Regions from separate parts of the Homo sapiens genome. Here region 1 is linked to region 2. The links come from fine-mapping of genetic effects on gene expression. A gene starts in region 2. The other region holds a variant in brackets. All regions are shown on one strand. Distances are between the middles of the regions. Region 1 holds the start of TM9SF1 (transmembrane 9 superfamily member 1). Region 2 holds the start of TINF2 (TERF1 interacting nuclear factor 2).

The links.
Region 1: its variant is fine-mapped to the expression of TINF2 in whole blood (TOPMed, PIP above 0.99).

Annotation. Positions count from the first base shown.
Region 1 is chr14:24,195,019-24,200,384 of GRCh38, reverse strand. TM9SF1 (transmembrane 9 superfamily member 1) reads left to right here and starts at 4,944. Exons shown (of 6, transcript NM_006405.7): 1 at 4,944-5,039; 2 at 5,349-5,366. The coding sequence starts at 5,366. RefSeq lists enhancers at 1-28, 4,046-4,285, 4,536-4,595, 4,665-5,364 and silencers at 4,796-4,855, 4,996-5,175. The variant T/C (reference allele first, on the strand shown) is at 2,385.
Region 2 is chr14:24,240,494-24,245,818 of GRCh38, reverse strand. TINF2 (TERF1 interacting nuclear factor 2) reads left to right here and starts at 3,196. Exons shown (of 9, transcript NM_001099274.3): 1 at 3,196-3,678; 2 at 3,825-3,929; 3 at 4,043-4,144; 4 at 4,508-4,615; 5 at 4,703-4,799; 6 at 4,944-5,325. The coding sequence starts at 3,487. RefSeq lists a silencer at 2,262-2,556 and enhancers at 2,748-3,047, 3,218-3,477, 3,548-3,767, 4,428-4,957.

The DNA.
Region 1 (5,366 bases), 45 kb after region 2:
GCCTGGCCAACATAGTGAAACCCGTCTCTACTAAAGACACAAAAATTAGCTGGGCGTGGTGGTGCATGCCTGTAATCCCAGGTACTCGGGAGGCTGAGGCAGGAGAATCACTTGAACCACGGAGTCGGAGGTTTCAGTGAGCCGAGATCGCACCACTGCACTCCAGCCTGGTGACAGAGCAACACTCTGTCTCAAAAAAAAAAAAGAAAGAAATACCTGAGGCCGTGTACAGTGGCTCATGCCTGTAATCCTGACAGTTTGGGAAGCCAAGGCAGGTGGATTACCTGAGCCCAGGAGTTCAAGACCAGCTTGGGCAACATAGCAAAAACCCATTTCTACGAAAAATACCAATATTAGCTAGGTGTGGTGGCATGTGCCTATAGTCTCAGCTACTCAGAAGGATCACTTGAGCCTGGGAGGTGAAGGCTGCAGTGAACCAAGATGGCACCACTGCACTCCAGCCTGGGTGACAAAGTGAGACCCTGTCTCAAAAACAAAAACAAACAAAAACATGAGACTGGGTAGTTTGTAAAGAAAAGAGGTTTAGGCCGGGTGCAGTGGCTCACGCCTGTAATCCCAACACTCTGGGAGGCCAAATTAGGCAGGCGGATCACAAGGTCAAGAGATCAAGACCATCCTGGCCAACATGGTGAAACCACATCTCTACTAAAAATACAAAAATTAGCTGGGCATGGTGGTGTGTGGCTGTAGTCCCAGCTACTCTGGAGGCTGAGGCAGGAGAATCACTTGAACCTGGGAGGGGGAGGTTGCAGTGAGCCAAGATCACACCACTGCACTCTAGCCTGGCGACAGAGCAAGACTCCGTCTCAAAAAAAAAAAAAAAAAAAAAGAAAAGAAAAGAAAAGAGGTTTAATTGGCTCACCGTTCTGCAGGCTGTATAGGAAGCATGGTGCTGGCTCAGCTTCTGGGGAGGCCTCAGGAAGCTTATAATCAAAACGGAAGGTGAAGGGGAAGCAGGGACATCACGTGGTGAGAATGGGAGTGAGAGAGAGAGAGTTGTGGTGGAGGTGCCACACGCTTTTAAACAACCAGATCTTGTGAGAACTCATAGGGTAAATACTACACCAAACCATGAGGGGTCCGCCCCCATGATCCAAAAACCTCCCACCAGGACCCACCTACAGCATTGGGGATTACATTTCAACATGAGATTTGGGCAGGGATAACTATCCAAACTATATCAGTGGGGGACAGAGGGGCAGAGAAAAGAACAAGGGAAGAATCCAAATTCTCATATCTTCCATCCTCCAAAACAGAATACTTCAAGAACAGATTATGCCACAGGCATGCAATAAATTCCCATTTATTGACAGTCTGACCTTGCTGGCAGGATGGTTCCAAAGTTCTGTTGGAAGCCAGCTCTATATCCTCAATCTAGCAAGATGAGCAGTTTTCCAGGGCACACCATGGTAAGGGGGCCCACCCAATCCTGCCCATCTGATCCCACAGGCTGGCCCCCGGATAGGTAACTTGGTGGCAACTCTAGTCTCTCATCATGTACAGGGGGTAAACCAGTTCATGCGAAGATCATGTATTAAGCTGCCTAACATATACAAAAACACTGCTAGGTCCTGAGGAAACAGAGATGAATAAATTACAGTCTTCCTCTGAGGAGTTTGAAATTAGCAAGGGAGACAGACACATAAGAAGTAAAATAACACTACAGTGAGATATGCTATAAACAAACCTGGGAGGAGATGTAAGGGAAGGCTTTATAGAGAAGGTGACATTTGCACTGTTCAAAAAAAAAGGATAAGGCCAGGTGCAGTGGCTCATGCCTGTAATCCCAGCACTTTGGGAGGTCAAGGCGGGCGGATCACGAAGTCAGGAGTTCGAGACCAGCCTGGCCAATATGGTGAAACCCCATCTCTACTAAAAAATACAAAAATTAGCCGGGCATGGTGGTGCGCACCTGTAGTCCCAGCTACTCGGGAGGCTGGGGCAGGAGAATCGCTTGAACTCGGAGGTGGAGGTTGCAGTGAACTGAGATCACACCACTACACTCCAGCCTGGTTGACAGTGAGACTGTCTCAAAAAAAAAAAAAAAAAAAAAAAAAGGCCAGGCACGGTGGCTCACACTTGTAATCCCAGCACTTTGGGAGGCCAAGGCGGGCAGATCATGAGGTTGGGAGATCGAGACCATCCTGGCTAACACTGTGAAACCCCGTCTCTACTGAAAATACAAAAACAAAAATTAGCCGGGCGTGGTGGCAGGCACCTGTAGTCCCAGCTACTCGGGAGGCTGAGGCGGGAGAATGGCGTGAACCTGGGAGGCGGAGCTTGCAGTGAGCAGAGATCACGCCACTGCACTCCGGCCTGGGCAACAGAGCGAGACTCTGTCTCAAAAAAAAAAAAAAAAAAGA[T/C]AAGTAGGGAATAGGAGATTGGGTGGTTTAGGCAGGAGGAACAATATGAGGCTTGCCGGCTTGAGAGAATATGATATTCAGTATTTCTATTTGAATACAGAATAGGGTTCCAGAAGGGGAATGTACCTTGAGAAGTAATTAGGATCCAGGTCTGAGCAGTCTCATATGCCAGGCTATTTTGACTCTACCTTGTATGCTCATATAATCTGGGTATACATCAAAATCAGTGCTTATTTTTTTGAGACAGAGTTTGGTTCTTGTTGCCCAGGCTGGAGTGCAATGGTGCAGTCTCAGCTCACTGCAACCTCCGCCTCCTGGGTTCAAGCGATTACCCTGCCTCAGCCTCCCAAGTGGCTGGGGTTATAGCCATGAGCCACCATGCCCGGCTAATTTTTTTTGTATTTTTAGTAGAGACGGGGTTTCACCATGTTGGACAGGCTGGTCTTGAACTCCCGACCTCAGGTAATCCACCTCGGCCTCCCAAAGTGCTGGGATTACAGGAGTGAGCCACTACGCCCGGCCTCAGTGCTTGCTTTTTTTAAAAAAAAAAAAATGCTGATGACCAGGCACCCCCTCCCCTGAGAATCCTGATTTTAAAAAAGAAACTTTCCAGTAGCAGTGTGAAAAATGACCCAGGGGGAAGGTGACTAGGAGACTAGCAAGGTGGCTCTCATGGTAGTTTAGGTGAGAGAAGATGGAGCCTGAACCAAAGAGGTGGAGGCAAGCATCTGGAAGATATTCAGGAAATAAGTGGAGAGGGCTTGGTGACACTGATATCTGAGCGGGAAGATAGAGAGAAAGAGGCCCAAGTTTCTGGCTTTAGAGACCAGGTGGTTGTCAGTTAGAGATTATTTCTAAGCCACTCTCAGTTCTTGTTCTTTTTTCTTTTTCTTTTTCTTTTTTTTTTTTTTTTTGAGATGGAGTCCCGCTCTGTTGCCCAGGCTGGAGTGCAATGGCCTGATCTCGGTTCACTGCAACCTCCGCTTCCCAGGTTCAAGCTATTCTCCTGCCTCAGCCTCACAAGTGGCTGGGGTTACAGGCGCCCGCCACCAGGCCCAGCTAATTTTTTTGTATTTTTAGTAGAGACAGGGTTTCGCCATGTTAGGCTGGTCTCGAACTCCCGACCTCGGGTGATCTGCCCGCCTTGGCCTCCCAAAGTGCTGGTATTACAGGCGTGAGCCCACCGCGCCCGACCTCAGTTCTTTTTCTAATTAGAAAATTCACTGATTGTCTAACAAAACTCCACCATCTGCTTCTTTGAACCTCACCTATATCTGCAGGGAAAGAACTGGGTCAGAAAGGGCAGTAATTGTAGAAGCAGGTAAATTAAGGGCTTTTCAGGCCAGAAGTCACTTGTGATTTTTCCACTGTGCTTCTTCCCCTGGGGAGAGAGAAGCTTAAGTCCACTTCCTTACACGTTGCTCCCAGGTGGCAAAACAGAAGTCACTGCTCAAAGGTCCGATTTTCAAGGGGAACTCCCTAGACGGCAGATCCCCTTTAAAACAGCTGAGACAAACACAAGGGTAAACTTTTTCAAAATAATCTGCCATACAAAGTGAAGAGAAGCCCAAAGACATACACAGTGATAAATAAGAACAAAAACATAGACTAACGGACCTCGAGATACTTTACCGTCAATTAACAATAACCATGTTAGGCTGCCCAACTCACAGAGTCAAAGGACAGACCTCTCTCCTTGCGCGCCTCTGCGCCAAACCGGGTTTCGGCTTGCTTATCGTGGGCTCTGAACGGTCACTGTGCGGCCAGGGAAGTCTCCAGCACAGCCTCGGGAAGACATTCCTATTACATATTTATCACTTTGGCGCTGGCCATTCGTGACAGGTGGGAGACGAGTGAGGTGAGATTCAGATGTTGGGACCCTTGCATGGGACAGATGCCCAAAGCTTCGCCCCTTCCCCGGTTTGGGGGCCACGAACCGCCTCTCAGGGCTCAGCCTCAGCAGCAGGTGGTTCAGCCGGAAAGTGCTTCGAACCCAGACGCCGCCTGCGCTCCATCTCCCCGGCCCTCGCTAGTCCCGTCCCGCGGGGACAGCTCTCGGGCCTCGGCCAGCGCGAGCCTCCTGGCCAAGAGCTCTCAAACCCCAAATCTTTCCAGGAGCAAGCGAGCGGCCTAGCAGCCACTCCTCTCCCGAAGGGGTGTCAGGGTCCTCGCTGCCAGGCCTCAGCCCCCTCCCCGGGAAGCCGTCGCGAAGGAGTCCCCAGGGGCCGCAGCAGCGAAGGCCCTCTGCGTTCCAGGCAAGGAGCTTTCCGCCAGGCTGAGGTCGCCGCCGGTGAGGGCGGAAGTGGTAAGACTGACGTGTCCTGGGCCGCGCTGCCGATCGCCGGGAGGACCCCCGCCTCGCCGAAGACGGGCGGGGCAAGCCGAGCCTCACGGGGTCCCCGGAGCTGGGCCGGGCCTCCAGATGGAGAAGGCGCAACGGGGAGTTCTTGAGTAAGCCAGAGCGGTGTCCAGCGCGGTGTAGCCGCAGCCGCCGCTGTCAGGCGCAGCAACGGGCAACCCCGTAGAAGTCGGTCGGCAGGTCCTCTCCAACCCGCCGCTACCGCGCCGCTGTGGGAGAGACCCCAGCAGGAGCCCAAAGGCAGCTACGGGGGCGCGAAGGCCGCTGGCGCCGCCTCGGCCAGCCCTTCCCGCGCGGTGAGGACCCCGGGGCTGTGGCGGGAAGGGACCCGAGGTGCGAGACCGAGCGGCGTTGCCATGGAAACGGGCCAGGGCGCGTAGTAGAGGCCCCGGGCCAGACGGGCTGCGGGTGGGGTGAACCCCAGGTTGGGAGGATGAGAGAGCAGAGGTGGAGCGGGGTCTTTGGGATAGAGAGACGTGGGGTAGGGTGAGGCGGGGAGGGGGCCAATGGGAGCAAGTGGAGCCAGGGGACCTCAGTTCGAGGCACCTGACCTGGGGTTTCTGTAACCTCCCTGGTTTCTATAACCTCAGGATTCCCCCAAACAGGTTCCACTGCCTTAAGGA
Region 2 (5,325 bases):
CACTGCAACCTCAACCTCCTGGGCTCAGGCAATCTTTCCACATCAGCCTCCTGAGTAACTGGGGCTACAGGTGTGCACATCTATGCCTGGCTAGTTTTTCAATTTTTTTTGTAGAGACGGGGGTCTCGCCATTTTGCCCAGGTTGGTCTCAAACTCCTGGGCTCAAGCAATCCACCTGCCTCGGACTCCCAAGAAGTCAGCTACACAGAGATAGCAGCTGAAAATGAGTAATTCAGCTGGGCACGGTGGCTCACGCCTGTAATCCTAGCACTTTGGGAGGCCAAGGCAGGTGGATCGCTTGAGGTCAGGAGTTCGAGACCAGCCTGGGCAACATGGCAAAACCCCATCTCTACTAAAACAAAAATTAGCCGGGCGTGGTGGTGTACGACCTGTAGTACCACCTACTTGGGAGGCTGAGGCACCAGAATCGCTTGAACTTGGGAGACACAGGTTGCAGTGAGCTGATATTGAGCCACTGCATTCCAGCCTGAGCAACAAAGCAAGACATTGTCTCAAAAAACAAAAAAAACCCACTGTAACAGAAATGATGAATGTCTGTGATGGGCTCATCAATAGACTGGACATGGCCAAAGAACATGGTGCGCTTGAAGAAATGTCAACAGAAATTTCCAAAGCTGAAATGCAATGAGAAAAAAAAATGAAAAAGAACAGAATATCCAAGAATTGTAGGACAATTATAGAAGCTGTAGCATACACATAATCAGAATGGCAGAGAAGAAAATAAAGGAACATAAGAAATGTGGCAATAATGACTGAGAATTTCCCCCAAATTAATGACAGACACAAAACACAGATCCAGGAAGCTCAGAGAGCAGCAAGCAGGATAAATACAAAAAACAAAAAATGAAGATAGACTGGGCTGGGCAACACAGAGAGACACCCCTTCTCTACAAAACATATTTTTCTTTTTTTTTTTTTTTGTAGAGTCAGGGTCTCACTGTATTGCCCAGGCTGGTCTCAAACTCCTGGCCTCAAGTGATCCTCCCACTTCAGCCTCCCAAAGTTCTGGGATTACAGGCATGAGCCACCACACCCACCAAAAAAGATTTTTTAAAAAATTAGCCAGGGACTGCGTGCAGTGGCTCACGCCTGCGATCCCAACACTTTCGGAAGCCGAGGTGGGAAGATCGCTTGAGTCCAGGAATTCGAGACCAGCCTGGGCAACAAAGACTTGTCTCTACAAAAAATAGAAAAAAATGAGCCAGGCATGGTGGTGCATGCCTGTAGCCCCAGTTACTTTGGAGGCTGAGGCAGGAGGATCACTTAAGCCCAGGAGGCAGAGGTTGCAGTGAGCCAAGATCACTGCACTCCACCCTGAGCAACAGAGCGAGACTGTCTCCCCACCTCAAAAAAAAAAAAAGAGCCGAGCGCGGTGGCTCACGCCTTGTAATCCCAGCACTTTGGGAGGCCGAGGCGAGCGGATCACGAGGTCAGGAGATCCAGACCACGGTGAAACCCCGTCTCTACTAAAAATACAAAAAAGCCGGGCGCGGTGGTGGGCGCCTGTAGTCCCAGCTACTCGGGAGGCTGAGGCAGGAGAATGGCGTGAACCCAGGAGGCGGAGCTTGCAGTGAGCTGAGATCGCGCCACTGCACTTCAGCCTGGGCGACAGAGCGAGACTCCGTCTCAAAAAAAAAAAAAAGTAAAACAACAGAAGTTCATATCTACATAAGAAAGAAAGAACATTAGAGAAGGAATAAATAAAGGGAAAAAGGAAGATAACTAGAATTTCACACATATCCAATTTGGGGTACTTTGGGACTGGGTGTTTCTTGGGCAGTCGAATGTGCGGATCAGCTGAGACTGATCCGGGGCGGAGACAAGGATGTGTGAACCATTATCTCTGGGAATGGAAGACATGGGCTAAAGACGGAGCAGTTTCACTAAATCCTTGTAAGGTGGTCAAGGCAGGCAACTAATCCAGCCAACAATTAAGGAGTGTAAGCTGTGTGTTAGGTTCTGTGCTTGCTGATGGAAATGAGAGGCACCAGGAAGCCTGTGGAAGAGACAGTCAAGGAGAGCAGTCAATTACATTAGGGGGCTGACAAGTTCAGTGCACAACAGAATCCTAAAACAAGAAACTAATTTGTGTGTGTGTGTGAGACCCCGTCTCACTCTATCACTCAGGCTGGAGTGCAGTCACTGAAGCCTCAACCTCCCTGGCTCAAACAATCCTCCCAACTCAGCCTCCTGAGTAGCTGGGACTACAGGCGTGCCACTACGCCCGGCTAGTTTTTTTGATTTTCAGTAGAGACAGGTTATCGCCATGTGATCCAGTCTGGTCTGGAACTCCTGGGCTCAAGCGGATCGATCCTCCCCTCTCGGCCTCTCAGAGTGCTGGGATTACAGGTGTGAGTCACCGTGCCCCCAGCCTGTATTCTATTTCTTCTTCTTCCTCTTTTTTTTTTTTTTTTTTTCTTTGAGAGAGATTCTCCCTCTGTCGCCCAGGCTGGAATGCAGAGGCAAGATCGCGGCTCACTGCCACCTCCCGTCTACTGGGTTCAAGCGATTCTCCTGCCTCGGCCTCCCGAGTAGCTGGGATTACAGGCGCCTGCCACCACGCCCAGCTAATTTTTGTACTTTTAGCAGAGAAGGGGTTTCACCATGTCGCCCAGGCTTGTCTGGAGCTCCTGGGCTCAAGTGACCCTCCTGCCTCGGCCTCTCAAAGCGCTGGGATTAGACACAAGCCACCACGCCCAGCCTGTATTTTATTTTTTAAGGGCGGGCGCCCTCTTCTGTTTTATAAAAGGAACAGTCGAATTCCTACTGGAAGCGACGCGCGCAGAGGGGAAGGCTTTGTAGACGCCGGCTCGGGTCTGGAATTTAAAGAACTAAATTTCGATGGGTGAAGACAGTGGGAAAGGGCGGTGGCATGATCCTCGTTTTACAGACTAGGAAGTCGAGCCTCACGGGAGTGACGGGGCTTCTCCGCAGGCTCCGCGAAGAAAGCAAGGCTGGGAGGACCCAGACGAACGGCCACAACAGCCTCAGCGGCCACGACAGCCTCAGCCGCCAACTCATGTCAGCCGGCAGAGAGTGCAGGAAGCGGGCAGCTACAGCTCCGCTGGGGCGTGGCCTTCTGACGCACCGTCACGGTTCCCTCTGTGGCCGCCCATTGGCTCCCTCTTACCGCCCTTTTCCGGGGCAAGGGAAGCTAGTAGCGGAGCCGGAAGTGAGGCACCCTCGGGCTCGAGACAGCGGCGACGTTTAAAGCTGAGCGACCCAGTGCCACTGGAGACGGTCAGCTTCTCCACTCAGGCTCCTCCAGCCCGAGCCAGAAGACCCCCTCCCCCAGAATTCTGGGGGCCGATGGAAGGGAGCCGAGTCAGATCGCGAGGTACCCAGAGCCGACAGACCGGAGCGACAGGGAGTTGCCAGAAGCCCCGCCCCTAGGAGTGATCGGAAAGCCTCACCCATCCGGGTGAGGAACCCGGAGGGACCGCCTCCGGGCGGAGCCCGCCGACCATGGCTACGCCCCTGGTGGCGGGTCCCGCAGCTCTACGCTTCGCCGCCGCGGCTAGCTGGCAGGTTGTGCGCGGACGCTGCGTGGAACATTTTCCGCGAGTACTGGAGTTTCTGCGATCTCTGCGCGCTGTTGCCCCTGGCTTGGTTCGCTACCGGCACCACGAACGCCTTTGTATGGGCCTAAAGGCCAAGGTATTGGAGCAAGTAGGACCTGGAAGGGGAAAGAAAGAAAGGGGCGGGATGCGAGCACCTGACAAGGGCCCACAGCTTGGGGATGAGACTAGTTGGAAAAGGTCAGCTTGCCCCGAAGTGGGGATTCTGAATTCAGTACCGTACAGGTGGTGGTGGAGCTGATCCTGCAGGGCCGGCCTTGGGCCCAAGTCCTGAAAGCCCTGAATCACCACTTTCCAGAATCTGGACCTATAGTGCGGGATCCCAAGGCTGTGAGTAATCCCCGGAACAAGCCCTGACCCCAGTTACACTTGGTGCAGCAAAGTTGCTCCTCCTGTCTACTGGATGTTGGTGCTAACTTCTCTGTCTTCTGTATCCTCAACAGACAAAGCAGGATCTGAGGAAGATTTTGGAGGCACAGGAAACTTTTTACCAGCAGGTGAAGCAGCTGTCAGAGGCTCCTGTGGATTTGGCCTCGAAGCTGCAGGTGAGACTGGTTTGAAGGCTATTATGTGGCTATTTTCTCTAACCCATTTTTTTTTTTTTTTGAGGAATCTTGCTCTGTCGCCCAGGCTGGAGTGCAGTGGCACAATCTCGGCTCACTGCAACCTCTGCCTCCCGGGTTCAAGCGATTCTCCTGCCTCAGCCTCCCGAGTAGCTGGGATTACAAATGCCCAGCTAATTTTTGTATTTTAGTAGAGATGGGGTTTCACCATGTTGGCCAGGCTGGTCTCGAACTCCTGACCTCAAGTGATCCGCCCACCTCGGCCTCCCAAATGGCCAGGATTACAGGCGTGAGCCACCGTGCCTGGCCACTAACCCACTTTTGACCTAATCTCCCCTGCTGTAGGAACTTGAACAAGAGTATGGGGAACCCTTTCTGGCTGCCATGGAAAAGCTGCTTTTTGAGTACTTGTGTCAGCTGGAGAAAGCACTGCCTACACCGCAGGCACAGCAGGTTTCGCTGGGGCAAAACATGTAAGGGCAGAGTGTGGGGTGGCTGTTTCAAGGATTGTGGTCTTCATACCTCTGTCCCTGCCCACAGCTTCAGGATGTGCTGAGTTGGATGCAGCCTGGAGTCTCTATCACCTCTTCTCTTGCCTGGAGACAATATGGTGTGGACATGGGGTGGCTGCTTCCAGGTACTAGGAATTTGGAGGTGTAGTGTTTAGCCTGAGACCTTTTGAGGCAGTCCACTGGAATAGTTCCATGGGCTCCGGGCATAAGAAACCAGTTATTCTGTTACTATCTGTTCTCTTTATAAGGGGCCTCATTTTCTTTTTCAGAGTGCTCTGTTACTGACTCAGTGAACCTGGCTGAGCCCATGGAACAGAATCCTCCTCAGCAACAAAGACTAGCACTCCACAATCCCCTGCCAAAAGCCAAGCCTGGCACACATCTTCCTCAGGGACCATCTTCAAGGACGCACCCAGAACCTCTAGCTGGCCGACACTTCAATCTGGCCCCTCTAGGCCGACGAAGAGTTCAGTCCCAATGGGCCTCCACTAGGGGAGGCCATAAGGAGCGCCCCACAGTCATGCTGTTTCCCTTTAGGAATCTCGGCTCACCAACCCAGGTCATATCTAAGCCTGAGAGCAAGGAAGAACATGCGATATACACAGCAGACCTAGCCATGGGCACAAGAGCAGCCTCCACTGGGAAGTCTAA